Regions from separate parts of the Homo sapiens genome. Here region 2 is linked to region 1. The links come from fine-mapping of genetic effects on gene expression. A gene starts in region 1. The other region holds a variant in brackets. All regions are shown on one strand. Distances are from middle to middle.

Region 1 (2,907 bases):
CCACACACTTGGCTATACAAAAAAGATGTTCCGAGACTGACAGTTAAAAATTACACTGCTGGCCGAGCACTGTGGCTCATGCCTGTAGTCCCAAAACTTTGGGAGGCCGAGGTGGGAGGATCACTTGAGGCCAGGAGCTCGAGACCAGCCTGGGCCTAACATAGCAAGACACCATTTCTAAGTTTAAAAATAAAAATAAATTTAAAAAAGATACACTGCTATGTACGACTGTTGATATAAAAAATCTGAATACTAGACATGGGTACTCATCTAGTACTTCAAGGGCTTATCAACAAAGTTGCAAGTTGTAACACTATGAATTGTTAGTGATACTCTTTTGGCTTTGCTAGCAAGTGTTGTAAAGCTATACACACACACACACACACACACACACATACACACACACACCTTTTAAAATGGTGACCCTGGTACCAAATATGACTTTAAATGGATTTAATTTTAATGGCTTTAACTACGTTCAGCTGTCATATGGATCAAAATTAGCCTCTATCCAGCTGGGGTCAACCAGGGAGCCACTTTTCTTAACCGACGACCTACTGAACGTCAACAACTGCAGGAGACGGGACTTTACCTTCGTCTCTGGTAAACTAGTTGACACATCCTGTGTTGGCAAGAGGCCTAAGTAGATGACCTTGGTCCTCTAAAATCTGGCCTGCACTCTCGGGGCACCCCTGCAACATCTACAAAGGCAGCTCCAGATAGAAAAGGGTTGGGGTCGAAAAGCCAATAACGGCAGGCACCTGCCCCGCCTCGGGGCTGGGGGGCTATTCCAGCGGCTTCAGCTAACTTTCAGAGCCATTCGTTTCCCAACAAAGTCTGAGGCGTTCCTCTGCTGGGTACACCAAGGGGCTCTGCAACCCTCCTGGGGGGGGGGGTGCCCAGAGGGCTTCCGGAAGTCCCAGGTTTATTCTTTCGGGTCACAGACAGCAGAAACTAAAAAGAGGGATTACCCTTTCTGTCCAGTCGCAAGATGGCGACCGAGCCTGGTGGGACTCCGAGGGGCCGCAGGCCACCTCCTCTTCCCAATGGCCCGTGCGCCGGCGGCGACGGCAAGCGGGAGGGAGGCGGGGCCGGCGAAGGAAGGAGGGGCGGAGCGCGGCGCCCTCCCGCGCGTCTTGGCCCCGCCCCACGTCCCCGCGTCCCGGCCTGGAGCCCTCGCCCGGCCGGGCGGCGCGCGCTGCCTGCCGGGATACTCGGCCCGCCCAGCCAGTCCTCCCGTCTTGCGCCGCGGCCGCGAGATCCGTGTGTCTCCCAAGATGGTGGCGCTGGGCTCGGGGTGACTACAGGAGACGACGGGGCCTTTTCCCTTCGCCAGGACCCGACACACCAGGCTTCGCTCGCTCGCGCACCCCTCCGCCGCGTAGCCATCCGCCAGCGCGGGCGCCCGCCATCCGCCGCCTACTTACGCTTCACCTCTGCCGACCCGGCGCGCTCGGCTGCGGGCGGCGGCGCCTCCTTCGGCTCCTCCTCGGAATAGCTCGCGGCCTGTAGCCCCTGGCAGGAGGGCCCCTCAGCCCCCCGGTGTGGACAGGCAGCGGCGGCTGGCGACGAACGCCGGGATTTCGGCGGCCCCGGCGCTCCCTTTCCCGGCCTCGTTTTCCGGATAAGGAAGCGCGGGTCCCGCATGAGCCCCGGCGGTGGCGGCAGCGAAAGAGAACGAGGCGGTGGCGGGCGGAGGCGGCGGGCGAGGGCGACTACGACCAGTGAGGCGGCCGCCGCAGCCCAGGCGCGGGGGCGACGACAGGTCAGTGTTGCCGCGGCCTGCGCCAGGCGGCGCTGGCTCCCCTCCGTCACTCGGCCGGCCTTCGGGGCCCGCTGTGGCGAGGTCGACACCCCCCTTCCCCGCCCCCCGCCGCCGAGGCGAGTGTTTGGGGGCGCGTGGTCCGAAGGGGCTGGTGCCAGAAGTAGGCCCCTGGTGGCCGCGGCTGCTGCAGCCGTAACTGTCAGTCCTGGCTGAGCGACGGCGGGAGGGTTTTGTCGCCCGAGGGGACGCGAGCGGGCCCGGGGCGGGGCGGGACGTGCGAGGCGTCGAGATTTGGGCCTCCTAGGAGCCAGGCTCTTCGAGCCAGCCGGGGCCCCAGACAGGGAAGGGCAGGCCCTTTCCTTCAAAGGGGAGCCCTTTCTCGGCGTTTTCAAGGTTTTTGGCTCTCTTGGGGAAGACATATTTAGCCGTGTGCTTGGTGGGTTGGGGTTTTGGGGGTGGATTGATGGGAAGGGAGGGCGGATGAAGTGGTATGTCAAGCCCAAGGGTTGTGCGCACAGGTTACTCTGTGTTACCGGCCACCAGGATTTCTGAAGTTGAACGTGAGTTATTGGCTTTGCCAGAGACTGCTGTGTTATATGCAGACCTGTATGCAAGCAGTTGGCCTTTTTTCCCCCCCCTTTTCAGTGTAGAAAATGAAAAGGATGCTTTCCTCATCTTGGTGGTAAAGGCTTTTGTTGGTAAAGGTAGAATTGAATGTACCAAATGCCTTAGTCCGTAAAATTTTAGAAATAATTTTAATACAGACACTGGTGAAGCTTGGCAACCTTGAAAGAGAATTTAGCGTCTACATTTTTTAAATGACTTTTTATGGATATGCTAAATTAGTAACAGTCCAAAATCTGTTTGAGATTATTAAGTGGCGAGGGTGCTGTTGAAAATGTAAACTAATAGCATATGGGGTTTACAGTGCACAGTTAACCTCAATCATGAAGAAATGTGGATATGACCCGTAATTTTGGATCATTTTACTGCCTGCAATATTGAGAGAAGCAGCAAATTATTACAGTTTTTTTTGGGAGACGACCTAAAGTTTAAGAAATACAACTGTTGAAAGTTACCTGTCAGAGACACAAAGGTACCCAATCAATCTTGTTGAATAAATTGGACAAGTGGGATAAGGT
Region 2 (2,907 bases), 39 kb before region 1:
TGTCCTTCCCCTCCTCATTTGACCAGCTACTAAGTCCTAGCACTAAGAGCTATTCACTACCAATAATTCACATGAACTGTATGAAGGACCCAGATAAGTTGGCAGTGATAATGGAAATTGCAAGGAGTAGCAAAGACGTACTCAAGAGCTGACCTGTGTGAACCTGAAGCCCCTGTTTCTGCTCAGCATCACAGGGGCTTGATGTGTGTAAAGCACATCCCAGGAAGCACATAGGAAACCAACTGTATTATAGTGATTTTTCTTATTTATTTTGTATCCATCTCTACTAAACTAATGCTGGACAAGGGACTCTCATGGGTTTTCTAGCCTTGCCATTTAGCAATAGTGGTCATTTACTTTCTTTCTTTGCCATAATTATATTTCTTATTTATATTTCATTTCTATTACATTCTAAGACATTCTTAAATAATAAAACAACCAAATGTCCAGACTCTCATTCAGAGTGTCTCATGTGCTGAGAAAGCTTCTTGAAGGGACTAGGAACTTGTTGCAGTTTCCATTGTGGGGTTGTGCATGTTTTTTAGACACCTGCGCAGGCACCAGCTTTAGTGGGGAAAAAAAAAAAAAAAAAGGCTTTGTAAGGGCTGTATTCAAAATGCCAGTTAACGCCCATCACCATTTAACAGCAGTTAGGAACACTAACAGTGTACCCTGCATACATTATTACCCAGTTAGATATTTTTATTGCTAGCAGATTCATGTCCCTAAAGAAGGAAAGGAAATGAGGCTTAGATGGGAACACGACAGGCACTGTGCTCAGGAACCAGGCTGTGTGTACAGGGATGCTGAGAGGCAAAGCTCCTGAAACCTTCTTTCCTAAGGGGGATCTGAATACCTCAATGCTACACAGGAAGTGGAGGATGTAGTTCTCTCTGTATTTCATTCACTCTGCAAAGACAAAAAAAAAAACAAAAAGTCTCTAGCAATTTATTGAAATTATCCTGTAATCACAAGGTTAACATCAGCAGTACCATTTTTCTGTACAAAGGAAGAAACTAGGCTTTTAGTTTTATTTTCAGTGAAATCATTAAAACACAACATTCCCCAAGGCCTTTCTACCAGTGGGATCAGCCACAGTGATGTGAAGTGCCGGGTGTCTGGCTTTGTTTGTCAGAGAACTGAGAACACTCAGGGCAAATATTAAGTCACAGATTTTCTGCAGAGTCATCGCTTGCCATGGTCTCTCACCCAG[G/A]CAGCTCTGCATTCAGGTGGAGAAGGTGGAAATTAGGGAGTCATTAGTTGGCCTCCATCAAAACAGCATCATTGGTTCACTATGTCTCCAAGTAAAGCATCTACCATGTTTCAGGAACTGGGTTTGGTACAGTGATGAACTACACGAGTAAGGCCACTAGCCTTTCAAAACTCAGAATCTAGTGAGGGGAAGTATCAATAAATTTGTTAAAACATATATAAATTAGGAAATGCACTCTGAAGGAAAATAACAGGAGCTATAAGAGAGAGAATGATAGCTGCTTTAAATCACATTCACAGGCAAGGCCTCTTTCTGATATGGATGCTGTCACACCAAGAACATGACATAGTCCCTTGTGAGGAGGAAGCCTGCGGTGGGGGGCATAAGCTCCAGACAGCTGCAGTGCAAAGGCCTGAGGCAGAAAAGGGCTCTGCACATCAGGAAGCTATACGGAAGCCGGGACCCTAAGGCAGCAGACAGCAAGGAACAGGACAGGGCTGCACGTGACCAGGGGGCAGGAACGGGGCTCTGCAGGCTTTGTTGGAGGGTCTGGATTGGAGCTGACTGGTGAGTTTTGTTTGTTTGGAGGATAATAAGAGTAAATGTGGAGTACTGGGGACAAACACTGGACTGCAGAGAACTGAGGAGAAAGGTGGGGAAACAGGCAACAAGCATGGGGTTTGTTTCTTCGGGAGAAGTCAACTATAAAGGAATGCAGAGAAGAGGTGTTGAGAGAGGATTCTGTTTTCAGTGGGGAAGTGAGCATACTTACAGAGTAGGGAATGACTCAATAAAAATAAATGAATATGGAGAGGATGGTTACTCTCCATGGAGCAGGGAGTATTTCTCAAGGAAGGCCCACCAAATCCTATGGGAAGTTCTCCTGGGGGGGCTAAAGACAAAAATCCCTGGGCAACACCCAGCATCAGAACACAAAGGGGGAAAGGCCCAGAAATTCTCATTTTTCACAACGTCCTTAGTGTAAAAGCTTGGTGCCACCATGGTAGTCTGAGTAGGCCAGCTTCCAACAGGGGAAGGACACTCAATCCTTTGAGACTGGAAGACAATGAGGGCAGATGTAGTACAAGAAATGGCAGATCTGTCAGTGTAGGTGAGAGCAGAGAAAAGCTCACCCCAGAGGGCAAAGAGCCCACTCTCCCAGGCCTGCAGGAACACCAAAAAACACCCCTCTGCTTCTTAGCACTTTCTAACAGTTATGCTGAACGCCAGACAAACCTGATTCTCCTGGGCCCTTCTAAGTGTGTTAATTTGAGTGATGGCTGACCATCCTCTCAAGTGGGTTACAGTAGCCCTTCCCCCTAGGTCAGCGGCACCTGAAATGGATGCCAGAAAGACTGGAACAGAAGAAAACTGAAACTTGGCAGGTGCATGGACTCAGGATTTCTCTCTTCCTCTGTCTGGGCCCTGCTTGGGATACACACAACAGACTCTTGGCTACAGACTGATTCAGATTTAACCAACTGGTGAAGAGCCTATTGATATGGGCTTAGGATTGGTTACGATTTTCTTAGGACTTGGACAGGCTTGAGTGAAAATTAATGTTCTTAGTTTCAGAAGCTGAAAGGAGCTATGGAAAGTGAGAATTAATAGTTTCCCATTATTTTTTAAACACTTCCTCCTAGTTTTTGCATATCATTAATGATTTTCTGTTGAATAACAAAATATGGAAAAAT

Alleles and levels. Alleles are on the strand shown, and positions count from the first base shown. SD is a standard deviation of normalised expression in the study named.
For the expression in thyroid of the gene that starts at base 1,230 in region 1, A is the low allele of the variant in region 2 and G is the other (small effect, 0.20 SD a copy in GTEx).

Evidence for each region. PIP is the estimated chance that this variant, and not a neighbour inherited with it, causes the effect.
Region 2: its variant is the best candidate, but not a certain one, in a credible set for the expression of UBE3A in thyroid (GTEx, PIP 0.65).

What each region holds. Positions count from the first base shown.
Region 1 is chr15:25,437,347-25,440,253 of GRCh38, reverse strand. UBE3A (ubiquitin protein ligase E3A) reads left to right here and starts at 1,230. Exons shown (of 13, transcript NM_130839.5): 1 at 1,230-1,765. RefSeq lists enhancers at 223-1,168, 1,169-2,114 and silencers at 966-1,305, 1,666-2,085.
Region 2 is chr15:25,476,770-25,479,676 of GRCh38, reverse strand. All of the region lies in intron 4 of LINC02250 (long intergenic non-protein coding RNA 2250), which reads left to right. Among named protein-coding and RNA genes, the nearest start is that of UBE3A, 39 kb to the right of the region's middle. The variant G/A (reference allele first, on the strand shown) is at 1,214.